Linked DNA regions of Homo sapiens. The protein of the gene in region 1 interacts with the protein of each later gene in a pairwise test. Each region holds a gene or a part of one and is shown in the gene's direction. Other genes may lie near its edges.

Region 1 (7,026 bases):
CAAAACATTTCTCCCATCATTTTTCTATTTTGTTAGCCAGGAGAAGAAAACCTTTAAATTTATTTTTTCTGGTCTGTCCATTGTTGATTTCTCATCTACCCCCTCCCTATGCAAAGCTCAACTTCTTTAGGAACCTGAAGCTTACCTTATAACTGCACCCAAGCCCAGGGCTTTAGGAACCTACCTGGCCTTTCTCAAAATCTTATAGATTCTGTGGTTTGGCTGCTGGGAGCCAGAGGGAGGTGGCTTGCTACTGTGTTTGCTATCATTTTGTAAACCTTCCGTTGCCATTTAAATAGGTATTTGTCTGTACTTTTAGAATAGAAGTGTCTTGAAGGCAATAAGACTGTGAGCTTTTCTGGTGAAAACACTGAGAGCCCAAGTCCACTAGTCCCAACTTTATTAGAGATGCCTGAAAATCCTCCCTGGCTGGCTAGGGGGAGCCGAACCAAGGTGGGATGGGCAAAGGGTGTGGTCAAATTGTCTCCTTCAGTTTTGGAAATATTTAATTTCCAATATAGATTCAGTATACATGGTAGGCTGTTTTGCTTCTCTGATGCCTGGGATAATCTGCCTGATATTTAGTGAGGGGTCAGCTTTGCCCTATAGCACCCTTTCTCTTCTGTATCTTGAGCATAGGCCCCCAGTTAGACTTTTGGAAAGTTTCTGAAAGTGTCACTTGCTCTGAAATTAGTATCAGGTTTGGCTGGTGGTTTGATGGTGAACATCTACCCCATTTCAAATATTTCTGAAAATTTTACACAGCATCCTATGGAGAATGGAACACTTTGTAAGCTATATGTACTTTGATGTAAATGTATATGTACAGATAGCATATGTATATACACACATATATAGTAAGTGGTCCATAGATATTTGTTGAATGAATGGAGAATAACTTTTTCGGTTGTATGCAAAATTCTGATATATGCTTTGCTTAGTAAAAATGCAACATGGCATATTTTCAAGGATTTTTCCTTTTCTTGTCCCATCTTCTAGTATGAAAGAAGTGTAGTGTAGCAGAACTTGACAGTAAAGCTAAATGGTTACAAGCACAGGCTTTGGCATTTAACAGACCTGGATTTGAATCTTTTCTCTGTTGTATAGTGGGTGTGTCAGTTTTCCTGAGCCTTTCAAGAGTGTTATGAGATTGAAGTGAGGTCATGCATGTAAAGTACTGGAGAACAGCACCCAGCCAAGAGGTGAGTGCGTGAAATTAATTTGGGGTACATGAAATTAAGGATATGTGAACTTCCAGAAATAATATACACAATTTTATATGCATTTTTACGGTTCTGTATTTATAGCTATAGCTATAATCTTATTTTCCAAGAAAAGTGTCAACCTCTGAACGATAGGAACTGCTGACTTGGAGTGTTTGATGCCTGAGGCAATGGGTTGTCTTCCTGGGGAGGCTGAAAGGAGTTGAGTGTTGGTGGCTAGTTCTAGGCCTTATCCCAGGTTAACACACTCCATGGAGGCCCCACTTCTCACCTCCCAGTTTCCCTTCCACCAGGCAGGCTGTTAATTGGGCCTGAGAGAAGCTGAAGAATGGTGCCAAGTCCTTGTGACCTCAAGTAAGAAAATATGTCTCTGAATCCAAGCATTCTGAGATGCAATTTGTACAGTTTATTTAACAAACACTTATCTAATCCTTACAATGGGCCAATCACTCTTCTAAGCCTTTTGCAAGTATTAACTCACTGAATCCTCACAACAACCCTATAAGGGAGATAGCATAATTAGCTCATTTTACTGATGGGTAAACTTAGGCACAGAGAGGTTAAGTTACTTTCTTTAGGTTACACTGCTAAAAAGTGGCATTACTGGGCTTACAAGCCCTAACAGTTCATGCTCTTACCTTAGTGGCTGTCCTAGACATTCTTTCCTTGTTTAATTCTTACAATTTATATTCTTTTAATGTATGGAACAAAGGTGGTATTTCCCAAGGTTTTCCAACAGCAGCAAAGGGAAGCTTGCTTAGCTGTAATCTAGAGGTTATAAGAAATTATTGGAGACAGCCAATTTCAATTTCCCTTCGAGTGCTGGAGTTCCCTAAGACGGTCTTGCTGAAACTCAGAGATAGACTGGAAGCACCTTGTTGGATGGCCTGGATCTCTGGTTCTGGAAGAATTACATTTTTGTAATGAGCTTCAACTTTGATGTGGTTTGAGAAGTGTGCTCGCCAGTTTTTTCCAACTATCAATAAGCTATATTTTGATGAAGTGACTTTGTATTTGCATCTTGGTGGACAACTGTGGTTGTAGGCTGAGAAGGCGGGGATTTATTAGAGTGCTGTCTAGTGGGACAGCTGGCTTGCCAGCTCAAGGTCCCAGTGAGGACCAGACCCTGGCAAATCCAGCTCCAGCTGAGAAACACTCACGTCTTCAAGGCCTCTTTCTCAAACAGAAGGGCCTTAGCCTGGCTTCACCCATTCCCTGGGGTGTGACGGGAGAGACTGTTCGGTAGAAACTGGAAGAGAAAGGAGAGTCTGAGAAAGTTCTCTGGAGTTGAAGGGGGAGGGGATGGGGGCAACTCTTCGAAAATCCTTAACTAAATGCAGCTGCTTGTTACACGGAGACTGACTTGCATGCCAGGAATATCTAAAAAGCTAACGAATACAAAATAAAAATAAACAGCAGTAAAAAGGCTCTCTCTTTGTTGCAGTAAGCTCAGTTGGGGTTTTCAGTTTGTTTAGGAATGGGATAATTGTGGCATCCACTTTATTTTGGTAAGGCAGTGAAACGTGGATTAATGTTATGTGATTGGGATGCTACCACCATCTGAACTTTTTCCTTCATCCCCTGCCCCCAGCCACACCCCCCAGAACACCCAGGCATGGACATCCATAGGACCTGAGTCTCAAACAGTTGCCCCTGAGTGAATTACATTGGAAGAGGGCAGATAATTTAATGGGATAATCTTGGCAGGGCCAGCAAATTTCACACCTCATCTCTCACTAATAGAAAGGCAGCAGAAGGCTACAACATCCTCAGATGAAAAGGTTGTATAAAAAGGCTCTGCTTAACAGTAACTGTCTGTCCATAAATAAGGTTTTGTACAGTCTTGATCCAAAAGCTGTTATGAAATACTGATAAGCCAAGCCTCATAATGTTTGGCCTCCTTACATTTCCTTTTCCTGCTTCTCTCCATAGAACCATAGATTTTTTTTTTTTTAAGAGAGAGAGGGGGACTAAAAAAAAGATCAACAGTCCAAACTTTATTTTTTTCAAGTATTTCTATACAGGATGGACTTCCTTTGATAGCTGCTTAAAGAGGTGGCGTGGAGTAATGGAAATAGAATGGGATTTGAGCCTGATAGGGAATGGGGGTTTGAATTGGGGCTTTGTTGCCTTCTTGGGCAAAGTTACCTAAACTTTTGAGCCTCTGTTTTCTTATCTGTAAAATGGGAATAACAATAATATGTGGCTTACTGGGGGGTTTTGTGAGAATAAAAGGATGTTATGAACTTATAGCGCCTAACACAGCACCATGGACTTAGTGAACGTGAAGTATGTTAGCCACCATCATTATCAAGGGCTTACTGAAGAAATTTGAAAATCTGGCTTCAAAACGATGGTCCTGCTGCAAGGTAGCAACCAAGGCTCAGAGAATAGCAAGTTTTACAAGGTTTTAGGACTCCAGAGTGTTTTGTTTTATAGGGAGCATGCAGATGCTCTAGATCTGAGCAGTACCCAGGCCAGTGCTGGGGACCTGGATGGAAGGGATTCCACAGTGCAGTTTTGCAATGCCTTAAAACAAAGGCTTTTTTCAGAACAGCAAGCTCTTTGGGGAAGAGCAACCCCTCCCAGGTGCTTAGTGTAATTCCAGAATCCTACAATGGGGAATGTTACATTTCAGGGACCTCCACTTGTAATCTGACCGTTTTTAGCTCCAATATCCAAATAATCTTGCTGAGCACAACTTGAAAGAGAAGGATAATGGCCGGAGGAAAGGATCCTGAGGTGCTCTGTTTGCCATTTAAATTTTCTGAGTAGAAGAAAAAAAGTTCATGTTACCCAAAGAGAGAAGAGTAATGAAGCGTGTGGGAAGCAGGAGGGGTGATAAAGAGGACTTCTAAAGACAAAGCAGAGGTTGGGTTTGATATTTTATTTTTCAACAGTGAAGCTTGTCACTCAGTGTATTTCAACTAACATTTATTATATATTTATCACATGAAAGATACAGTATTCGTGTCCAGGAATAAAGTATTAACTTTGCCCTCAAGGAGAGAGGAGAAAAATTCTCACTTTTTTGAGCACCTGCTATATGCCAGGTATCATTTTTTTAAAGCTATTAAATTTATGCTTCTCAGCACTCCTTGGAGTTTGGACTTCTGATCCTATTTTACAGATAAGAAAATCGAGGCTCAGGAAGGTAAGTATCTCAGCCAAATTCGTACAATGATTAAGTTGGGATTTGGGATTTGAATCTAGGTATTTTGACTCTCAGATGTATGCTCTTTTTGTTATCCTTAAAGTGTGATTGGGGAGACACCAATGAGCAGATGTGGTACCACAGGCAACTATCTCTCCCACAAGTGAATTATAGGAAAGAGTTGTGGAAAAAATGCTGTGGGAACATGGGGAAGAATACATTAATTCTCAGGGGATTAGAGGGTCAGAGGAAGAACATGAGTGCCTCCTTCATAGGCTTATTGTGAAGAGTCAATGAAATAATTCATGGAACACACTCAGACTGTGCATAGTGAGCGCTCAGTGAGTGTTCTGCTATAGTTATGTAGCCAGTGAGAGGCCTGATCAGGATTTATCTGCCTCTAAAACCCATGTACTCTTGCTCCCCTGTGCACTTTTTAAACAGACATGTGATTGTTGGAAGAGTAAGTAACTGTGCAGTCACCAAATGAAAGGGAAGACACCAATACAGTTGCTCTGGTATATTCACCACCTGCCCTAATCCTGGCTTTTAGGACTGGACTGCTTTGGGTATGGGAGGGGATTTGGATAGATGTGGGGTTGGAAAGAATCAAGATGTCTCATCATGAACTATAGCGCTCCTAGAACTCTGGCCAGGATTTACCACCTGCCCTCATTCATTCATTGATCATACATTTTCTATGCACTTACAGTGAACCAAATATTCTGATAGTCTCACTGGAGATGTAAAGATGAATAAGGTTAGATCATTGCCTTGGAGGGTTTTTCAAATGACAGATTTATGGCAGAGATTGCTAGCTGATCACCAAATATGTTTCCATCTCTTCCGGTCATATGACTAGACAACATTTCTCAGCTTTCTCACAGTTAAGTGAAGCCATGTGACTAAATACTAGCCAATTAAATGAAATTGGAGGTAATTTTTGTCGCTTGTAGGCTTGACCCATAAAAAACTCCCCAGGCAGAATCGGTATGATCCTTCTTCGGTGGCTTGACAACCTTAGAAGTCATGTGTTGAAAGTGTCACAACGTGGAAAGAGCCTGAGACTCTCCCTTAATCACTGTGTGGTGGAAGCCACACTTGTTTAGGTTTTATGTGAACCAAAAACAAGTGTCCATTGTTAAGGCTGAGATTTTGAGGTTTTTTTTTTTTGTTTTTTTTTTTGTTACAGCTGCTAATGTTACCTTAACTAACATGAGGTTGTAAATCAGTGTGTGGTGAGATCAATTTAGTGGGTTAGGACCAGCATTTTTAGATAGAATAAAATAGGAAACCTGGTTTGTGTCTGACCACTTCATGCAGACCTGGGGCTCCATCCAGTAAATTAAACCCCTTCCCAAATAATTTATGGCACACATAGGGTGCCTCTAGCACTGTAGAGAATCTAGAAGAATGAAGGGTGGCCTTTACCCTTGGGGAGTTTACCTTTTAGGGGCAGTAAAATAGGCACTTTATACAGCCAGTGAGTACAGAGTTGGCAATTATATATGCAGAATCCCTAGAAGGGTGGGTCTTTCGGGAGGAAGTGTGATATGATGTGAGCCTTGAAGGAAGGATTGAGAGGGTGCGGGATTGAAGGATGGGAGATGGGAAGAGGAGTTGGACATTTCACTGCTGGAAAAGGGCTGGAGTTCCACAGCAGCCTGCAGCTGCTCTGGGGGTCTCCATGGACTCGCTGAGACTATCCTGAGTTCTTAAACCAGGCCTTCACTGTGGAATGAAGCTGATCTCCAGGGGATGGGAGAGTGAAGAAAAGAAAGACAGCGTTGAATGAAGCCTGTTGTGTTTTTAGCATATGAAGGGTGGAGGAGGAGAGAGAAGGAAGCAGTTTCACTGGGAGCCTGAAGACTTGTCTTTCTTCCCAAAGGGTGTCCCAGGGAGTTAAAAATGTTGTGCATTTCAGGGCTGCTTGTCAAAGGTATATGATGGTGTCTTATTGTCTCTAATGCAGCCATTTTCTCTTATAGTGCAGGCTACTTAATTCTATTCCCCCTCTTGTCTGCTTGATGAAAAGAATAATAGTATACTAATAATTAACACACTGAGCATACTGTGGGCCAAGTACTATTCTAAGTTCTTTAAGCGATTTAACTTGCATAGTCTTCAGGACGACCCTATGAGGTAAGCCAGAGTTCTAGGAGCATTATTGTTCACTATTAGGCATCTTGATTCTCTCCAGCTCCACACCTGTGTGAATCCTCCACCATGCCCAAAGCAGAATCCAGGCTAAAAGCCAGGATAAGGGCAGATGGGAGAAAATACAAGACGAACTGTCTTGGTGTCTTCCCTTCTATTTGGTAACTACACAACTACTTACTCTTCCAACGACCACATGTCTGTTGAAAAGGTGCACAGCAGAGCAAGAGTATATGGGCTTTAGAAGCAGATTAATCCTGACCAGGTCTTTCACCGGCTGCTGAACACTCCTTGAACACTCACAATGCATGTGGCAGGGTGCTCAGTGTGTTCCACGATATCCCCATTTTCCAGATAAGGAAACTGAGGCACAGAGAAGTAAGTAACCTGCCCAAGACCACACAGAGAGTTAAATGGGAAAACTAGGATTTGAACCTGCATATCCTAAGGCCTGAGTTTTGTTCCTAATCATTATTATGCCAAACTGCATTG
Region 2 (7,026 bases), on another chromosome or scaffold:
GAGGCAGAGAGATGAATGGAATGGAGCCGCATCTCAGGCAGTTGCAATTCCTGCAGGCCAGGGGAGAGACCAGGAGGAAAGGGCAGGTTATGCCAGAATCAGGGCCAGGTGTGGAGGTGTGCCCCAAGTGATCCTCCCACCTCTCAAGCCTCAGGAGACAGGAGGATGGCTTGAGCCCTAGAGGTTGAGGCTGCAGTGAGCTATGTTCATGACACTGCACTCCAGCCTTGGCAACAGAGTGAGACCCTGTCTTCAAAAAACAAAAACAAGCCCCAGAATCAGTGGGTAGAAGACTCGGGGCAGGGGAGAAGACCACCCACCTGCTGCTCCTTCAGCTGGAAAAGCTGGACTGCCCCAGGCTGGGAGGAACTCTGTAAGGACTCACTAGAAGCTTCTGAAGTGATCAGGCCACTGGAGGACAAGTTGAGGGCTGGGTCACAAAAGTGAGTTCAGGAGGGCAGTGAGAGTCACTCAAGGTCACAGGTCACGCTGGCACGCCTGGCAGGCAGCCTGGGAGAGATAGGAGTCCCGGCTCTGCAGGTGGAGACATCGCAGAGGGCCTTGGGCATCCAGGAGGATGGCAGTGCCATAGGCGACGCTGCTGCGGCCTGGCCGTGTGGAGCACTGCACTCCTAGGAAGCAGGAAATGGCTGTTCACAGGAACCCACAGGCCACCGGCTCCAGCTTTGACCTGGGAAGCTGTTTCAGGCAGGTGGAGAGGATGAGGTTTGAGGAGCAGAGGGAAGAGCTGCTGAGGGGGTGGGCGCTGGGCAGTCGGGAGGCGAAGGCAGGAGATGGCTTGAGCCCTAGAGGTCGAGGCTGCAGTGAGCTATGTTCATGACACTGCACTCCAGCCTTGGCAACAAAGCAAGACCCTGTCTCCAAAAAAAAAAAAAAAAAAAAAAAAAAAACAAAACAAAAAACAGAATCAAGAATCAGTGACTAGGAGACTCAGGGGGAATGGGACAAGACCCCTTAGCCTGGGGATATGTTAGTCCCGGACCAGACTGAGCCTGGCCAGTGTGTGACGGAGGTGGGAGCCACTGGAGGGGAGGAGGACCCAGGTTCAGGGCCAGGGTTAGAGGGGCGAGCCCGGGGAGCCGGCGCAGCCTGTCCAGCACAGGGGGTGCAGAATGGCAGGAGAGGGGATCACAGGCTGCAGGGGAGCAGCACAGCCCCTGTGCCCTCCTGCCCTTTGGCTCCACCCTGTCCCACAGCCATCCCTGGTGGTGGGGAGGGGCTTCAGGTAGGAAGGTTCTAAGCTTAGCCTGCATGGCCCCCTGTGGGGGAGAGCCACCTCCAGAGGGCATGGGAAGCAGATTGCCGTTCATTCTCCATCACCTGCCCACATTCCTGCCTCTGGGACATTGAGGGGCTGGAGTGGGCTGGGGTGTGTGGGAGACAGAAGCAGAGAAAGGCTCCTCATTCTCCCTGGAGCCTCCCACGCTCACAGCCCCTCCCCAGGGAACGCCTCTGAGGCACAGGGGAGGAGGCGCTGCTTCCTCTGCAGCTCCTCGCCGTCTGCAGGCGCCTTCACGCGTGTGTGTGGGCACATGTATGTGTGAACATTCGTGCGTACTCTGTGTTCATCCACCTGCCTCTCCCCGTGCCCTTTCTCCTGCCCTCTTCTTGGCTGTCTCCTGCTCTTCCCTCCTTCCTGGTCCTCCTTGCCTTTCCCTTGCCCTGCTCAGACCCCGGAGGTGGCAGATCTTAGACCCAGAGAGAGCCTTGAGGTCCCTGTTCCTGCCCCCTTCATGGCTTGATTCTCCACCTCAGCTGGGACAGGAGCACCCAGCCTACCAGGCACTGGTCCAGTTCCCACACAGGCTCATGGCTGCAGTGCCCAGGAAGGCCGGGACTCCTGCAAACCCATGTCATTCCCACCACAATGCCCTCTGCAGGGGAGCCACATAAAGAGGCCTGGTCCTTGGTGCAGGCATCTGGAGAGGGCTGCCTCCCCCAGGCCTCCCGCAGTGCATGTCCGTCTGCTCTGGGGAGGGAATTGGCTGATATCCCAATCTGTCTAGGGGACACCATCACCTGGGGCATCAGAGTTCTCATGCCCAGCTGGTGCTGTGCCTGGGGACTAGAAGGGCTGGTGCTGCGTGGGGTCAAGAGGTTTACCTGATAAACCGGTAAGGGATGCCCTCTTCCCCCAGTAGACTTGGGAGGTGCCTCACTCCCAGGGTGCCTCCGTCACTCTGTCAGGGATGCTGTTGTGCAGGCTTCAGTCAGCAGGCTCTCATCGGGGCAGCCTCTCCTTTGGGCAGAGGCTGATAGGACCAAAGAGGTTTCTAGAGGACTTGTGGGTGGACCAAGCCTCTGTCCTGTCCCTGGAGGAACCCAGGCCTGGGGTGTTGTGGTCCCCAGCTGAGTGGAGACTGTGCCTGTGCTGAGCTTGGGTAGAGGAGGACAAGAACTAGGCCAGGCGCGGTGGCTCACACCTGTAATCCCAGCACTTTGGGAAGCCGAGGAGGGTGGATCATGAGGTCAGGAGATCGAGACCAGTCTGGCCAACTTTGAGAAACCCTGTCTCCATTAAAAACACAAAAAAATTAGCTGGGCATGGTGGCACGCCCCTGTAGTCACAGCTACTCAGGAGGCTGAGGCAGGAGAATCACTTGAACCCAGGAGGCAGAGGTTGTAGTGAGCCAAGATCGTGCCACTTCACTCCAGCCAGGTGACAGAGCGAGACTCTGTCTCAAAAAAAAAAAAAAAAAAGAACTGGGCGGGCACAGGCTGCCGTCAGGGCCTCGCTCAGGCTTCCCTGCTGTGTGACCACTCACGTCACATGCTCCATCTTGGCCCAGCAGCTTTCAGGGCAGAGACGGTGTCCCCGAGCTAGAGACAGGGAAGCAGAAGGATCTGCTGTCTGTGTCGGGCTCGCAAGCCTCGTGAGTGCCTCCCTGACCCAGAATGCTGCCCAGGGGCGCAGGCACCGCTAGGCGGCCTCAGGTGGTCCGTTCATTTCACCATTCCTGCAACTAAAGGACTTGTGGGTTGTGTATAATTTCTCACTGTTTTTGATGAGCCTCGTTTGGGTGCATCTCTGAGCCTCCTGGCTTTGTTCCAGTGCTGCGGCTTTGAATGCTGCTGTCTTAGAAGCAGCTGTGCCTCTGCTCAGGTAGCAGCAGGGGGCTTCACGCCCCATCCCCCCGGCCCTGCCCCCAACTCTGGCTGTGTTTCTGCAGGATGAGAAGGCGCGCATTGAAGCATTGGGTGGCTTTGTGTCTCACATGGACTGCTGGAGAGTCAACGGGACCCTGGCCGTCTCCAGAGCCATCGGTGAGAGCCAAAGAGGCCGACCCAAGTGGGAGAAGGTCTCTCGGAAGCCCAGGCCTCGAGTGTGGCCCGCGGCTCACCAGGGGTTCAGGGAGGCAGTGTGATGGGCCGAGGGGGATTTGTCATGCACTGGGGTGATACCCTCGTAGTGTGAAGGGAACAGGGCAGATTCAGAGACTGCAGCACCAGTGTCTGAGTGTAAGTTACACTGTATGTTATTATCTCACCTAAAACAGCTCCTACAAATCTCATAGAAACCTGTGGCTCACCACCCTATGGGCTGGAAGTAGAGCTTCCAATATTCCGGAAATGAGGTTTATCCTCCTCCCGCGTTCATGCTGACAATCCTTTTTTCTCTTTTGGGAAAAAAGTGGGTTCGCTGGGCGCGGTGGCTCACGCCTGTAATCCCAGCACTTTGGGAGGCCGAGGTGGGTGGATCACCTGAGGTCGGGAGTTCGAGACCAGCCTGATGAAACCCCATGTCTACTAAAAAAAAAATACAAAAAATTAGCCAGGCATGGTAGTGAGCCCCTGTAATTCCAGCTATTCAGAAGGCTGAGGCAGGAGAATCACTTGAACCCAGAAGGCGGAGGTTGCAGTGAGCTGAGATCGCGCCACTCCACTCCAGCCTGGATAACGAGGAAAACTCTGTCTCAAAAAATAATAATAAAAATAAATAAAAATTTTAAAAAGTAATGGGTCTGGCTGGGCATGCTGGCTCACGCCTGTAATCCCAGCACTTTGGGAGGCCAAGGTGGGCGGATCACCTGAGATCGGGAGTTCGAGACCAGCCTGGCCAACATGGTGAAACCCCTTCTCTACAAAAAATACAAAGTTAGCCAGGTGTGGTGGCACGCGCCTGTAATCTCAGTTACTTGGGAGGCTGAGGGAGGAGAAGTGCTTGAACCCAGAGGCGGAGGTTACAGTAAGCGGAGATCGTGCCACTGCACTCCAGCCTGGGCAACAGAGCCAGACTGTGTCTCAAAAAAAAAAAAAAAAGTAGCTGGGCGCGGTGGCTCACGCCTGTAATCCCAGCACTTTGGGAGGCCAAGGCGGGTGGATCACCTGAGGTCAGGAGTTCGAGACCAGCCTGACCAACATGGTGAAACCCCATCTCTACTAAAAATACAAAAAACATTAGCCGGGCGTGGTGGTGCCTGCCTGTAATCGCAGCTACTTGGGATGCTGAGGCAGCAGGATCACCTGAACCCTGGAGGTGGAGGTTGCGGTGAGCCAAGATTGCACCATTGCACTGCAGCCTGGGCGACAAGAGCGAAACTCCATCTCAAAAAAAAAAAAAAAAGTGGGTCCAGCCTGCATCTCATTGTCTCAGCATGCGGTCAGTGCCGGGTCTCAGGCTGTGGGCACTGTGACCACACCTCCTTCCTGGTACTTAGAAAATCTCTCCCTCCCCAGCTGATTGCCAGGGATTTGGCACCTACCCCTCTGAAACATTCTGTCCTTTTTGGCAGATGTGGCACCTTCTTGACAGCCCATCCTCAGGCTGTGTCTTTCCTTGTGTCTCTGGACACTCCAGGAAGTGAGGCCAGGATGGGACGGCTAGGGCAGAGAAAGAGGGAGCTCGGCCTGGTGTGGTGGCTCATGCCTGTAATCCCAGCACTTTGGGAGGCTGAGGTGGGCAGATCACAAGGTCAAGAGATCGAGACCATCTTGGCCAACATGGTGAAACCCCATCTCTACTAAAATACAAAAAAAAAAAAAAACAATTAGCTGGGCATGGTGGCGCGAGCCTGTAATCCCAGCTACTCGGGAGGCTGAGGCAGGGGAATCGCTTGAACCCAGGAGGCAGAGGTTGCAGTGAGCTGAGATCGCGCCACTGCAGCCTGGCGACAGAGCAAGACTCCATCTCAAAAAAGAAAAAAGAAAAAAAGGGGGAGCTCACAGGCCAAGGTCAGGGGTTTCCGTTCCCAGGCAAGTGGGAAGTACTGGGCAGTTTGCATAAGGGAGCAACAGACCCCAGACCCCATGAGAGCAGGTTGGTCTCTGTCCCTGCAGGATGTGAGGTCTAGGCCTGGGTAGGTGGGGAGGAAGCTGTGGACACCGTGGTCCTCTGACCCGGGCTCTTCTCCGCCTGTCCAGGGGATGTCTTCCAGAAGCCCTACGTGTCTGGGGAGGCCGATGCAGCTTCCCGGGCGCTGACGGGCTCCGAGGACTACCTGCTGCTTGCCTGTGATGGCTTCTTTGACGTCGTACCCCACCAGGAAGTTGTTGGCCTGGTCCAGAGCCACCTGACCAGGCAGCAGGGCAGCGGGCTCCGTGTCGCCGAGGAGCTGGTGGCTGCGGCCCGGGAGCGGGGCTCCCACGACAACATCACGGTCATGGTGGTCTTCCTCAGGGACCCCCAAGAGCTGCTGGAGGGCGGGAACCAGGGAGAAGGGGACCCCCAGGCAGAAGGGAGGAGGCAGGACTTGCCCTCCAGCCTTCCAGAACCTGAGACCCAGGCTCCACCAAGAAGCTAGGTGGTTTCCAGGCCCCTGCCCTCCCCTTCCTCCCATCCTTGTCCTTCTCTCCCTCAGAAGCCTCAGGACCCAACAGGTGGCAGGCAGTGGACAGGGTGCCCGCCCCACAGTGCTTTCCCCAGCACCCCAGAGCCAGTCGGGACACCCCCCGCAGCCCGTCCTGGTGGCTGTGGAACTGCACTGGGTGGCGGGCAGATGGTGGAAGGCAGCTTAGGAGACCTCACCAAAGAGAAGATGGACCGGCTCTTGCTCCCAGCTCCTATTAGGCCCGGGGTGGGACCAGAGGTCATAGGTGCCCAACGGCAGCCAAACCAAAGACACTGGTGTGCATGGGGCAGCATGGTTGTGCACGTGGGACCCTGGGGCGGACCCAGGAGCCAAACTCTTGAAGCACCCCCTGGGTCAGGCCCAGCAGCGGAGTGGCCAGCCCCAGTTTCCCATTGCTCCTCTCTGCGGCCAGGGCCAGGTGGGTTCATATTTACAGATATGCCCAGCCAGTCCTGGTCGGCCACACCAGTGTCCCAAAGAGGAGAGCGCAGCAGAGCCAGGGGTCTGTTCTGTAGCAGCCACCCCCCTGCCCCCACTCCAGGGCAGCCATGATGTGCTTGGGCCCACCAGGGCCTTCCGGGCTGCTCTCTTCCCTGAGCCCGGAACCGGCGACGCACATGTGTCTTTTGTTGGTGTGTTTGTTTTTTTCCAGGGAGGTCTAATTCCGAAGCAGTATTCCAGGTTTTCTCTTTGTTTTATCAGTGCCAAGATGACCTGTTGTGTCATATAATTTAAGCAGAGCTTAGCATTTATTTTATTCTTTAGAAAACTTAAGTATTTACTTTTTTAAAGCTATTTTTCAAGGAACCTTTTTTTGCAGTATTATTGAATTTATTTTCTAAATCAGGATTGAAACAGGAACTTTTCCAGGTGGTGTTAATAAGCCATTCAAGTGCCTTACACAGCTTTGAAGAAACTAGGACTGCAGTGGGCTCGGATAGGCCCATTGAGGTTTTTAGAAAAGCAGGATTTGTTTTGTTAGGGAGGCATGATTTTGGTGAGATCTTTCTGGAAGAGTTTTCCGCCTCTTTGTGATGCTGAACACCCCCAAGGTTCTCCCCTCCCCCCGCTGCCCAGGTGACTGGCAGGAGCTGCGACTGCCACGTAGTGGTGCCTGGGCCCGACAGCGGGGCTCTGGGCATCCCGGGTGACCTTGGCCCATCTGCCTGCATTCCCACCCCCTTGGGCCTGGCTGGATCCCAGGCAGAGGGACCTT
Region 3 (7,026 bases), on another chromosome or scaffold:
TTATCCCCTAAATATAAATCCCTAATTGACATAGTTTTATTTTGCTTGTTTTTAACCTCAGTGCAAACTAAAAGTAGATACTCTTGTGAATCCTTCCTTCTGGCCGGCATCGTGTGTGTGTGTGTGTATGTGTATGTATGTGTGTGTGTATGTATGTATATACACACGCACATATATAATTTTTTAAATTTCTGCAGCATGCTATTTTAAAAGATTTATCCATATCGTTGCCTATGCCTGTAGTTTTTGTGTTTTAATTTTTTTAGAGACAAGGTCTCACTATATTGCCCAGGCTGGTCTTGAACTCCTGGGCTCAAGGGATCCTCCTGCCTGGGCCTCCCAAAGTGCTGGGATTACAGGTGTGAGCCACCACACCCAGCCCAGTTAGTACATTTTTGTCTTATGAACATACCACAAATTACCTTTCCACTGTTGATGGACATCTGGGTTGTTTCTGGTCTGGGGCAATTATGAACAGCCCTGAGTCAGGTGTGCATACCTTCAGCTTTACTAGTTGATACCTGGTTTCCAAAGTGGTTGTACCAATTTACATTCCTTCAGTGGTGTCAGCCTTGAGTTTGTAAGTCACTGTATTTGCTGTTTAACCACAATTATGCTTGAATATTTTCTGAATGAATGAATAAAGGTCCCTGGGTAGTCCGATCCCTGGCCTGTCATGTGCTAGCGTATTTTTATTTAGTTATATGGTTTGGACTAACCACCCAAATACCAGAAATGGTTTTCCCACTGTGTTTGGTTGACAAATATCTAATGGAATCCTTTCATCAATCTTTTTTTTTTTTTTTTGGAACAGATGAGTAGTTACAGGAAATTTTAAATATGCAAAATGAAGTACTAAAAATAAGTGGCTAGTACCTAGATGTTTTTTAAGGCTCTTGAATGAATCCTGCCTCTGGTGAATGCTTCCATTGTGCCCAGCCCTAAATGTGTAGGACAGTGTAGTGTGCAGGAACCCAGGCCTATCCTTGTTAAAGTACCCTCTGAGGATGAGACTCCTTAAGAGGCACTGTGCACAGACCCTAACTCATACTTCTTGGCAATTCCAAAGTAACCACAGACTCTGTGCTACAGGAATCAATGACTCTTTTAAACTTTTTTTTTTTTTTTTTGAGACAGAGTCTCACTCTGTCGCCCAGGCTGGAGTGCAGTGGCGCGATCTCGGCTCACTGCAAGCTCCGCCTCCCAGGTTCATGCCATTCTCCTGCCTCAGCCTCCCTAGTAGCTGGGACCACAGGTGCCCGTCACCATGCCCGGCTAATTTTTTGTATTTTTAGTAGAGACGGGGTTTCACCATGTTAGTCAGAATGGTCTTAATCTCCTGACCTCGTGATCCGCCCGCCTCGGCCTCCCAAAATGCTGGGATTACAGGCGTGAGCCACCGCACCCAGCCTTTAAATCTTTTAAATGTATTTTTCTCCAAATTTTCCTTTGCCTGAGAAAGTAGAAGTAGCTTAGAGCAGAGTTTTTGTCGTTTTTGTTCATTTTCTTTGTAAGAGATGGAGTCTAGCAGTGTGGCTCAGGCTGGCCTTGAACTGCTGGGCTCAAGGGATCCTCCCACCTCAGCCTCCTAAAAGCTGGGACTGCAGCATGTGCCACATCCAGCTTGAATTCCTGCTTTGTGAACAGACAGTTACCAGGCTCACTTTGATTGCCCGTGTTTAGTTTTGCCAGCTGGATTTGAAGTGTGTGTGTGAGAGAGAGTGAGAGAATGTGAGAAAGAGAAGGAGCAGGAGGGAGGGTGTGGGGAGAGGTGGGCAGTTCACCTGAGGGCAGCCGTTAAATTCAGGTGTTCATTGAGTACTTACCATGTGCCTAGTATTATGTGCTGTGTTTCTGCCCTTAGAGCAGAATGTTACGCAATTCTGTAGGTTTACAAAATACCTCAGGGGAATCCTTTTTAGCTGGAGGGATGATGGAAGAACACTAGCACAAAGACTGAGATTTGTAGATCCTTTTTATTTCTTCTCTAAAGCATCTTGGAAAATAGCTAAATCACTCTATTTTCAGTCTTTATTTACATAAGTCACAAAGACTTTTTTGCTCATTATAGTAAAGATTTTTTTTCAGATTCTCTAAAATAATGATAATTTTAGAAACCACATGCGGATAAATTAGAAGTTTTCAGGAAAAGACACCCAAAGGAGGAGGAGTAAGAAGTCGTTAGTATGAGAACCTGTTGATCTGAGTGATGGGGGAGGAGCCCTGTCGTGTTCTTTGTCACCCCTTCGGCCTTCCAGCGGGCAGCTTTCACAAAGGAGCTCCATTTTCCACCTGTTGCAGGGCAGGGGCAGCCTCAGCCTGGGCGAGGGAGGAGGCCTAGGGCTGAGATCACAGCCATGCCCTTTCATGTGCAGCCCACCCAGCTCACCTGGGCACGTCCCATTCTGTTCTTGCACCAACCTAGAGCAACCAGAGGTCCGGTTGGGTCAGCTTTTCACACCCCATGCCATGTTGAAACCTCAGTGGACGAGAAGGTTCTTTTGAAGTTCATATGCAACTGCTGGGTTTACTTCTGTCTTTGTCCCAGAACAGTTTCAGCATCAATGACCTAGGGCAAGTTTTTTTGTTTGTTTGTTTGTTTGTTTTGACTCCTATGTCTTTGAGTGTGTGGGTACATATGAGAAAACTCCCTAACTAGAGCATGCTGCTTCTGTTGACTAGTAAACATTATGTGGCAGAGAGCGCCTTCAAAGCACCAGCCTTCCCTGCCTGGGAAAGTGACCAGTAGGTGAACTTGCTTTAAGTTTTGTTTTTTTTGTTTTTTTGTTTTTTTTTTGAGACGGAGTCTTGCTCCATCACCAGGCTGGAGTGCAGTGGCGCGATCTCGGCTCACTGCAACCTCCGCTTCCCAGGTTCAAGCAATTCTCCTGCCTCAGCCTCCCGAGTAGCTGGGATTACAGGCGCATGCCACCACGCCCAGCTAATTTTTCTATTTTTAGTAGAGACAGGGTTTCACCATGTTGGTCAGGCTGGTCTCGATCTCATGACCTCGTGATCCACCTGCCTCGGACCCCCAAAGTGCTGGGATTACAGGCATGAGCCACCGCGCCCAGCCTGCTTTAAGTTTTAAGGAAGCACTTGTAAAAATAAAATCTGGAAGTACTGTCAACATACAAATTACATACAAATTTGGAGATTTATAATGAAGAATTTTGCCAATTTAGCTAAAATCTAAATCTTAGATTTAACTAAATCTTTTAAATCTTTGTGTTTCATTATAAAACACAAAACATTTATAATGAAGACACACTTCATGTCATCATTATAAATCTTTGGTGTTATCCTGGCTCCTATATAAAGAGCACTGGCAGGCTCAGGCCAGAAGTGGAGAGGGGGCTTGGACCGACAACTATGTGTTGTTAATTTTCTTCTATTAAAAATATTTTTTACTTTTAGAAATTGAAATCATATAGAAAATTATGCTGGGCACAGTGGCTCACGCCTATAATCCCAGCACTTTGGGAGGCTGAGGCAGGTGGATCACTTGAGGTCAAAAGTTCAATCGAGACTAGCCTGACCAACATGGTGAAACCCCATCTCTTATAAAAATGTAAAAATTAGCCGGGTGTTAGGCCGGGCACGGTAGCTCATGCCTGTAATCCCAGCACTTTGGGAGGCTGAGGCGGGTGGATCATGAGGTCCGGAGTTCGAAACCAGCCTGACCAACATAGTGAAACCCCGTCTCTACTGAAAATACAAAAATTAGCCGGGAGTGGTCGTGGGCCCCTGTAATCCCAGCTACTCCAGAGGCTGAGACAGAGAATTGCTTGAACCTGGGAGGCGGAGGTTCAAGTGAGCCAAGATCATACCACTGCAATCCAGCTTGAGTGAAAGAGCGAGATTCCATCTCAAACAAACAAAAAATTAGCCGGGTGTGGTGGCATGCACCTGTAATCTCAGCTACTTGGGAGACTGAGGCAGGAGAATTGCTTGAACCCAGGACGAGGCAGTTGCAGTGAGCAGAGATTGAGCCACTGCACTCCAGCCTGGGCAACAGAGTAAGACTCTGTCTCAAAAAAAAAAAAAAAAAAAGAAAAGAAAATTATTGAAAGCAAATTAACCAGCATCATAACTCACCATTCAAAAATCATTGCTCATACTTTATCTTTTATAATGCTTAGAAATTAAGTATTATCAAGTCAGAGCTTCCTTGGGCCATTTCTCTTCCCTTCCCACTGAGACAACCACTCCCATGAATTTGGTACATTTCCTTCCAACTCTATTTAAATATCAATTTTACTTCAAACTGCATTTTTTTTTTTTAAAGACAGAGTCTCTTCCCCAGGCTGGAGTTCAGTGGCACAATCTCAGCTCACTGCAACCTCCGCCCTCCAGGTTCAAGTGATTCTCTTACCTCAGCCTCCTGAGTAGCTGGGATTACGGGCACATGCCACCATGCCCAGCTAATTTTTGTATTTTTAATAGAGATGGGGTTTCACTGTGTTGGCCAGGCTGGTCAAACCCCTGACCTCAAGTGATCCACCTGCCTTGGCCTCCCAGAGTGCTGGGATTACAGGCATGCGCTACCGCGCCCTGCCTTCAAACTGCTTTTTTGATGAATGTCAAAAGGACATAGAGGCCTGGTGTGGTGGCTCATGCCTGTAATCCCAGCACTTTGGGAGGCCTAGGGAGGTGGATGGCTTGAGCCCAGGAGTTCGAGTCCAGCCTGGGCAACATGGCAAAACCCTGTCTCTACAAAAAACACAAATTAACCGGATGTGGTGGCTCATGGCTATCGTTACAGCTACTTGGGAAGCTGAGGTGGAAGGACTGCTTGAGCTCAGGAGGTCGAGGCTGCAGTAAGCCATGATTGTGCCACTGTGCTCCAGGATTCTTGCTCAAAAAAAAAAAAAAAGACAAGACAAGACTAAGCATGGTGGCCCATGCCTACAATCCCAGCACTTTGGGAAGCTGAGGCCAGCCAGAGTATCACTTGAGCCCGGGAATTCAAGGCCAGCCTGGGCAACGTGGCAAAACCCTGTCTCTACAAAAAATTAGCCAGGCATGGTGGCGCACCCCTGTAGCCCCAGCTACTCAGGAGGCAGAGGTGGGAGGATCGCTTGAGTCCCAGAGGTTGAGGCTGCAGTGAGCCTAGATTGCACCACTGCACTCCAGCCTGGGTGACAGAGCAAGACCCTGTCTCAAAAAAAAAAAAAAGGACAGAAATCTTTACTAGCCTTTATTTTGTACTGTCACATATGTTCTATGTTTAGGGGATGGAACTCTTAGAGCATTTCACATTTCACATGATATTTCTTTTTTTTCCTTTTTGTCACATGATGTTTCTTGTTAACAAAAATTGGAGAAGTATTTAGTGTTTTACAGAGCTTCAATTACTTGGTGTAAACTTTCAGCCAAAGGTGATCCAAAATGGAAATGGAGTAGAACTTGTTTTGTGTACTAGATTGTATCTTTTTTTTTTTTTTTTTTTTTTTTTTTTTTGAGACAGAGTCTCGCTCTGTCGCCCAGGCTGGAGTGCAGTGGCGCAGTCTCTGCTCACTGCAAGCTCCGCCTCCCCGGTTCACGCCATTCTCCTGCCTCAGCCTCCCCAGTAGCTGGGACTACAGGTGCCCGCCACCACACCTGGCTAATTTTTTGTATTTTTAGTAGAGACGGGGTTTCACCGTGTTAGCCAGGATGGTCTCGATCTCCTGACCTCGTGATCCACCTGCCTCGGCCTCCCAAAGTGCTGGGATTACAGGCGTGAGCCACCGCACCCGGCCTAGATTGTATCTTAAATCCAAATGACTACTGTATTATATGAAAGTAATCAGTTTTTTTTTTTTTTACAAAAATTACACTTACGGAGTTTCTTATTCCATTTATCCTCCTAGAAAGTACAGGAGATATTTTTTCCACAATATCAGATTACTCTTAATAATATTTTTAGATTCCTTCTAAAAAGGTACTTACTAGAAATGTGAATTCCCAGGCCTTCACTTCCAGAAATTCTGATTAATTAGGTCTGGGGTGGGGTCTAGGAGTCTGCATTCTAACAGGCAGCCCAGGTGATTCTCGTGTAGGACTCCTTGGGAGCACACTTTGAAGAATGCGTCTACTATGCTGTGATGGTTTTATAACTTACTAATTTCAACCAAGGATTGGTGTAGTAGCCCATTCTCACGCTGCTATGAAGAACTGCCTGAGACTGGGTAATTTATAAAGGAAAGAGGTTTAATTGACTCGCTGTTCCACATTGCTGGGGAGGCCTCAGGAAACTTACAGTCAGTGCAGGCAGGGGAAATGCCAGACGCTTATAAAACCATCAGGTCTCATGCAACTCACTCAAAATCACCAGAACAGCATGGGGGAAACCGCCCCCACCTGGTCCTGCCCTTGACACGTGGGGATTATGGGAATTACAATTCAAGGTGAGATTTGAGTGGGGACACAGAGCCTAACCATATCAGTTGGCAAACTTTCTTTTTTTTATTTTTTAAATTTTTTTATTTTAAGAGATGGGGTCTCACTGTTTGGCTCAGTCTGGAGTACAGTGGCATGATCCTGGCTCACTGCAGCCTCGAACTCCTGGGCTCAAGCAATCCTCCTGCCTTGGCCTCCCAAAGTACTGGGATTACAGGTGTGAGCCACCACACCCGACCCTCTAGAAGTGTTTTTGTTTGTTTGTTTGTTTTTTGTTTTTTGAGACAGAGTTTCGCTCTTTCACGCAGGCTGGAGTGAACTGGCGCGATCTCGGCTCACTGCAACCTCCATCCCCCCGGGTTCAAGCGATTCTCCTGCCTCAGCCTCCCGAGTAGCTGGGATTATAGGTGCCCACCACCACACCTGGCTAATTTTTATATTTTTAGTAGAGACGGGGTTTCACCATGTTGGCCGGGCTGGTCTCAAACTCCTGACCTCAGGTGATCCACTCACCTCGGCCTCCCAAAGTGCTAGGATTACAGGCGTGAGCCACCATGCCCAGCCTAGAAATGTTTTACTAATTAGTAATGTAGTCTTCTAAAGGGAACTATTACATTGTCATATTGTGTTTCCAGACAGTAT
Region 4 (7,026 bases), on another chromosome or scaffold:
ATTGTTCTTTTTAATACACTTCAATTCTTCCCTGCCCTAATCTTAAAAATTCTAGTTTAAAATTTTCCCGGACTTTGCATTTAATCTGTTACTGTGTATATCATTATGTATGCCTTATTCCTGCAAAACTGATAAATTCTTGCTGGGAATATATACCTGTCTTTTCTGTGTGGGACTTGAAAACACACTCTTTTTTTTATGCTACCAGATGTGTGGGGGTTTTTCCATACCAAGCAGTTTTCCAGCAGGCATGAACTGAATGTCCCATAATTCAATTCTGACACATATGTACCTGAAGTTAGTCAGATCCCACAGGTTAATGGCTCAGTCCCGCAAGGCTGCCCCCAACCTCAGATGGTAATCACAAGTAGTAGGTTGTCACCTATACACTCCTGACTGACTGTAAATCAGGGTTCCCGTTACTCCCTCCTTGGTTCAGTTAACTTGCTAGAGTGACTTACAGGACTCAGGGAAGTACATTTACGGGTTTATTATAAAGGATACTACAAAAGATCAGTGAACAGCCAGTAGGAAGAGATGAATAGGGCAAGGTATGGGGGAAGGGGCACACCACCATCCCAGTGTCACCAGTAGAGTCATGATTGCAAGCTGTCCAGGTTCTTGGCGTTTTGAACAAAGAATTGGACAAAACTCCAAGCAAAGAAAGAATGAAGCAACAAAAGAACAAAAGCAGGGATTTATTGAAAACAAAAGTACACTCCACAGTGTGGGAGCTGCCCTAGCAGCACTCCCCCCCGACCCCCGCTGCTTTACCGAATCTTCTTGGGTCCAAATACCCCCTAGAACTTTCCCATTGGCCATTCCATGCTCACCTCATGTAAATGAAGAGGTGGCTTGCAATTGGTCTGATTGGTTGCCAGACCCACCCCCACATCAGTCCGCTTGGTTGTGGACAGCGACCATTCAGTGGCTAGAGTGAAGTTACAAAGTTGCAAACGAAGATTCCACCCGCAGTCAGTCTGATTTGTTGAGGACAGCCAATTTCCCGTCTACTGTGCAGAAAAGGTAGGTGGTTTGCAACGGGAGTAGCCTCTGGTCCTTTTGTTACTTAGGCGTGGAAAGTTAGGGTTTTCCCTTCAAGTTAGTTCTGGGAAGTCGGGGTGAAACAGCCTTAGATTCCCTGCCTCCAGACCCTATTCACCTGCCTCACTAGCACCTCCAGTGTTTTCATCCAGAAGCTCAACAAATCTTATTCAACGGTTTTTATAGAACTTCATCTCCATCCCCTCCCATAGAGGTGTGTGTGTGTGTGAGGCTGAGAGTTCAACCCTCTTGTCACATGGTCTTTCTGGTGACTGGCCCCACCCTAAATCACTTCATTAGCATAATCAGGTTTGATCAAAAATAGTGGCTCATAAATAACCAAAGACACTCCTATTAGAAAATTCCAAGAGTTTTAGGAGGACTGTGACAGGAACTGGAGAGAAAGACCATGTATTTCATATTATATCACAGGGACAGAGGTAATGGTTAAAGCTAGTGGATAATGATGCAAGTATTGTCTGCTGAAAGCCAATTCGTTCCGTATTTCTTAATATTGCATGTTTGGTATCTTTTGGTTGCAAGCAACAAAAACGAATTTAAGAAAAAGAAGAAGTAATTAAATCCGGCCGGGCGTGGTGGCTCACGCCTGTAATCCCAGCACTTTGGGAGGCCGAGGCGGACGGATCACGAGGTCAGGAGATCAAGACCATCCTGGCTAACACGGTAAAACCCCGTCTCTACTTAAAAAAAAATTAGCCAGGTATGGTGGCGGGCGCCTGTAGTCCCAGCTACTTGGGAGGCTGAGGCAGGAGAATGGCATGAACCCGGGAGGCGGAGCTTGCAGTGAGCCGAGATCTAGCCACTGCACTCCAGCCTGGGAGACAGAGCGAGACTCCATCTCAAAAAAAAAAAAAGTAATTAAATCCAGAAGGGTAGTGGTGCAGCTAGTTTCAAGGATTTGACCAAACCCAGGTATTATAAAGCATCAGAACTGCCTTTGTCTCTCATGAGTTCTTATCTCTACTTTCTCTCGGAGTCTCTGCTTTCTCTCTGGCTTCTCCAAGATGTGAAGCTTGGCCATCTGGGGTCACACCTTTATGAGCTTGGTTATTGAGGAATAAAACTGAACACTTCCAGCTTCTGTGTTTGAAATCTAGAGGAATTGCCCAATTTAATTCATGTTCCCACACTTTGGATCAGTCACTGTAGCCAGGAAAGGGCAGATACAATGAGGGGCCCCATCTAGGTCATATCCCTAATTCCTTGGCTAGAGGAGTGAAGTTTATTGTTGGTAGCCCTCCCACCAAAACCATAGGAACATTTCCACAGGTAGAGGGTACTTTCTGGGCTGATAAAACTATACATAGGGGCCACATAAATAAACTATTAAATAGGAGCATATAGTTATTCATAATAAACTGACTAATAAGCACTGTTAATTTTCTAATCTCCAGTGAGATAATGTAAAGTGTCAAATGGTCTTAAGTAGTTAGAGTGATCAGCCAGCATTGTTTCTTTGACACAGGGAGCACTACCTGGAAATCCAAATTACAGACCAAATTTAATAAAAACTGAATTCAAGCAGAGAGTTCAGGGAATGCTTTTAATGTTAATGTGATCAAGCTATGATAGGTTGATGATTCTGTCACCTCTACAAGAATATTACTTTCACGTTTCTTGAAATATTGGTATTCTTTGTATAGGACAGTGCTAACAAAAATTTAGATCAGTCAGTTTGTGAAAAGATTGTTACTTTTTTTGTTTAAAACTTTTTCATGAATTTCCATTGTTTTGAAGATGAAATTTAAACCCTTGACATTATTTCCAGGGTCCTGTATGGTCTGACATCTGCATACCTCTCTAACCTCATTATGAGCTACTCTTCTTGCTCCTTTCTCTGTAAGCCCTAGCCATATTTATCTTCTCTCAGTTCCTGGAATGCTTTAATTTCCACCCCCCGCCTTCAGAGCCTTTATGTTTGCTATTTTCCCCTGCCTTGGCTGCCAGCACCTTCCTTACCCTCACCTAATTAACTGCTTACCCTTGGGTTAGATCCCACTTTAGGCAACATTTCTTCAGAGAAGCTTTTCCTGTTTGCCAGTTTCTCTAACTCCTTTCCTCATCCTCTAGACTGGTTCAATTCCCCAGCTACTATGGCACTTGGTACTTTAATACTTACCTTTGTAACATTTAACAATTTTTGGTCATTGTCTATTTTCCATTTAGACTGAACCTTTCATAAGAGAGCTTAGATATTAGGAAGAAGGAGTAGCTGATAGTACCAATTTTTAAGCAAATTGGTTGTAGCTGGGGCTATTGGTTTTATAATTTAAAAGTTAATGTTTTATCTTCTCTTCTGACAGAAAGTGAAATATTTATTTCCATTGCAGTTTAGCAACTTTCCATGTTTCCCTTTCCATTTTTCTTGTGAATCCCGTAGTACAGGATCAAAGATAGGAATTATTTAACATACATGGCTGAGGATTCCTTTTCTAGCTCCTTTATTTAGAATGGTGCTTTTTAACCCTTACTCTAGAGTAAGGAATTTTTTAAAAATACTGATGCGTGGACCCTACCAGCACCTATTGTAGTTTAATTTATCTGAATGAAGCTAGATGATTCTAATGTTCAGTCAGGTTTAAAAATTGCTGGTTTAGAAAATATCTTACTTGAGTACTCTTCTGCCCCTCCAGTCCCTGCCCACCTTCTCTTTTTATTTGAGTGAAACATTTTCTTTTCTCCTTTGATTTAAGCAAAGCTCAAGCTTGGTGTGGGAATGAAAGGAAAAGGACTTTGGAGGGATTTACCTATTTTTTCTAGGAGAGAAAGTGCAATACTAACTTTTCTGTTTTGTGGAATGTCCCAGTGCAAGTCTAGTATTCTGATGTTTTTTTTCTTCCCCAAACTGTTGCCCCCCACCTCCAGCCTATGTACAATTTGTGTTTTATTTTAGTATTGTGTATATAGGATTCAGCACTATCCTCAAATGTATGAACATATCCCCTGTGGATAAGGGGGGACTACTGTATTTGTAAAAGTTCATATTTCATATTTCAATGCATATAAGAATTATTTTATCTAATGGTTACAGTCTATATCCTTCATTGATGTGTTTATTTGAGGGTCTTTGAACATTTTTGTAACTTTTCTCTATCCAAATGCAGTTTTATAGATCATTTTTATGGAAAGGAAGGAGATAATTCGGAAGGATGTTTTAACATGTGGTACTTTCTACCTCATGTTGATCGAAAGATTTTCACTTGTGAATTAATTTGTCTCAGAATCATGGTGTTTCACAATAGAGGGTTATTTTGGTTTATCTGGCTTGCCTTGGTTTGGTTAATGTGGTTGAACTGCTTGGCTACTCATAAAGTTTGGGAAATTGATTTCTACTAATTAATTACAATAGTAACTTAAAATAGATCATTGCTGGTGATATGGAGATGCCTCCATTAATACCACGGTTTCTAAAATGATAGATTTCAGGAGTAGTGTGAGCAGGCTGAGATTAAGAATTAAGTGTGATAGTGGCAAGACTTGGTTATTAGACGTGTGTTCAGACGGATGTGTGGTAGAAGAAGACTATGAGCATTCAGACTTAAAATCTTGGTTAGTAAGATCCATAGACAGGCAGGGTTTTTTTGTTTGTTTGTTTGTTTTAACAGGTTGGAGTGCAGTGGCAGGATCTCAACTCACTGCAAGCTCCGCCTCCCGGGTTCACGCCATTCTCCTGCCTCAGCCTCCCGAGTAGCTGGGACTACAGGCGCCCGCCACCATGCCCGGCTAATTTTTTGTATTTTTGGTAGAGACGGGGTGTCAACCATGTTAGCCAGGATGGTCTCGATCTCCTGACCCTGTGATCCACCCTCCTTGGCCTCCCAAAGTGCTGGGATTACAGGCGTGAGCCACTGTGCCCGGCCAACAGGCAGGTTTAAGGTTTGTTCTGTAGGTGGTAATCTGGGTTAGGGCAGCAAAGAAGGTGGATTCTGAGATCAGCATCTGATGATAACACCAGGAATAGTTCCAAATGAACTTTTCTGTGAGAGAAAGCTTTCTAGGTTTCAAAGGATCCATACCTATTGCAGTAATTACTAATGTTCTCTGAAGAAGGCTTCTTATCTGTCCTGTGACTAGGAATAATTTTTCATTCCCTCCTACTATACAACTTGCTTTTCCCTCTTATAATATCTTCCATATATATATATATCTCAAGAGAGTCTTTCATGTTGTATTACATATAACCTTATGGAAAGCTCAAAAGTTCTTTGAAGCCTCTTGTTTTGCTAAAAGGTTCAGGTAAATTTTGCATTCTATCCCATATGTGCCTGTTTGTTTTAATATAAAAATTGTTTAAATTAGTAACCAGTGAAAATACTGTTTCTCCCTAAAGAATTTTTTTGATAAAATTGATACTTCAGTGGCTTTGAGTGTCTTTTGGCATATTGCCAAATGAAGGTGTTGAGGAAATGCCACTCCAAAATATGACACCTTGATATATTGATTACTTTAAGTTGGAAACACTTGCAAAGTAGCAAATGCAAAGAAACACTTTCTCTGAACTCCTGTTACCTACCTAAGGACAGATCCTCCAAAAGAAGCTCAGTTTGCTCCTAGGGAGTTTGATCAACCAGGGAAGATTGTCTCTTATCACTGGAGAGGAGAGTAAAAGTCAGCACCACACCCAGACAAACTGACACAAAGTATCATCTATTATTATTCTAAGGGCCCATTTATCTTTCTCCAGAATTGTTCTTCTAAATTGCCTGTATACCTCTACCCCCATGCTATATAAAGGGTATATAAACTCCTAAATATCACTTTTTTTTTTTTTGTATACACGTTTCTTTCCTGTGATACCCCCATGCACATAATGAATCTGTATACCTTTTCTCCGTTTAGTTTATTTCATAGACTGGTTTGAAATATCACGGATTTTGTTTGTTTTTGGTATACACTTTTTAAAAATACCACTTTTTTTTTTTTGGTATACACTTTTCTTTCCTGTGATACTCCCATACACATAATAAATTTGTATACATTTTCTCCATTTAGTTTATTTCATAGACTGTTATCGAATCCTGATGGTAGAGGGAAAGTCTTCCTTGCCTTACACAAGTATTTCCCAGAATATATTTACACCATTCCTTGATATGTGTTGCCCTGTTTTTTTTTCTTTAATTACACAAAATTTAGTGATTTCACTTTAGATAAATTCAAAAGTACTCATTTCTTTAATTGATTTTCTTCTTTATCACAGCTCTGACAAGTTGCTTCAGGAAGATAAGGCTGGCTGTTAGACTACTTGAGAATCTTTTAAAAAGAAAAAAGTCAATAACATTTAGTGCAGTAGATCTCTGAAATGCATCTATTTTGTGCTTATTCTGTGTCAGGCACTGTGCTTATCATTAGGGGTACCATGACTAAAAAGAGTATTTGGCCTAAAGTCTTTAAAAACTGTTTTCTTTTTCCTTTCTTTCTTTTTTTTTTTTTTTTTTTTTTTCGTTGAGATAGGGTCTGTCTCTGTTGCCCAGGCTGGAGTGCAATGGCACCATGATGACTCACTGCAGCCTCGACCTCCCAAGCCCGAGTGATCTTCCTGCCTCAGCCTCCCAAGTAGCTAGGACCTCAGTCATGCACCACCACCGCACCTGGCTAATTTTTTAATTTTTGTAGAGATGAGGTCTCCCTATATTGCCCAGGCTGGTCTTGAACTCGGGCTCAAGCTATCCTCCTGCCCCAGCCTTCCAAAGGGCTGGGATTGCAGGTGTGAGCTACCATACCTGGCTAAAAAACTCATATATAAAAAGATTACCATAACACATTGGTAAGTTAAAGAATCTAGGCTGGGCGCGGTGGCTCATGCCTGTAATCCCAGCACTTTGAGAGGCCGAGGCAGGTGGATCATGAGGTCAGGAGTTCAAGACCAACCTGGCCAAGATGGTGAAACCCCATCTCTACTAAAAATACAAAAATTAGCCAGGTTTGGTGGTGGGCGCTTGTAATCCCAGCTACTCAGGAGGC

What was found.
Region 2: the proteins of ROR1 (region 1) and PPM1F interact in a two-hybrid assay, tested with the Homo sapiens proteins (one study listed by BioGRID and IntAct).
Region 3: the proteins of ROR1 (region 1) and DUSP14 interact in a two-hybrid assay, tested with the Homo sapiens proteins (one study listed by BioGRID and IntAct).
Region 4: the proteins of ROR1 (region 1) and STYX interact in a two-hybrid assay, tested with the Homo sapiens proteins (one study listed by BioGRID and IntAct).

The regions. Positions count from the first base shown.
Region 1 is NC_000001.11:63,777,007-63,784,032, forward strand, and holds part of ROR1 (inactive tyrosine-protein kinase transmembrane receptor ROR1 isoform 1 precursor), read left to right. Parts: intron 1-7,026. UniProt on the Homo sapiens protein: Has very low kinase activity in vitro and is unlikely to function as a tyrosine kinase in vivo. Receptor for ligand WNT5A which activate downstream NFkB signaling pathway and may result in the inhibition of WNT3A-mediated signaling.
Region 2 is NC_000022.11:21,921,828-21,928,853, reverse strand, and holds part of PPM1F (protein phosphatase 1F), read left to right. Parts: intron 1-3,191; coding exon 3,192-3,285; intron 3,286-5,382; coding exon 5,383-5,762; 3' UTR 5,763-7,026. UniProt on the Homo sapiens protein: Dephosphorylates and concomitantly deactivates CaM-kinase II activated upon autophosphorylation, and CaM-kinases IV and I activated upon phosphorylation by CaM-kinase kinase. Promotes apoptosis.
Region 3 is NC_000017.11:37,492,882-37,499,907, forward strand, and holds part of DUSP14 (dual specificity protein phosphatase 14), read left to right. Parts: intron 1-7,026. UniProt on the Homo sapiens protein: Involved in the inactivation of MAP kinases. Dephosphorylates ERK, JNK and p38 MAP-kinases. Plays a negative role in TCR signaling by dephosphorylating MAP3K7 adapter TAB1 leading to its inactivation.
Region 4 is NC_000014.9:52,733,151-52,740,176, forward strand, and holds part of STYX (serine/threonine/tyrosine-interacting protein), read left to right. Parts: intron 1-1,694; exon of another isoform or gene 1,695-1,728; intron 1,729-7,026. UniProt on the Homo sapiens protein: Catalytically inactive phosphatase. Acts as a nuclear anchor for MAPK1/MAPK3 (ERK1/ERK2). Modulates cell-fate decisions and cell migration by spatiotemporal regulation of MAPK1/MAPK3 (ERK1/ERK2).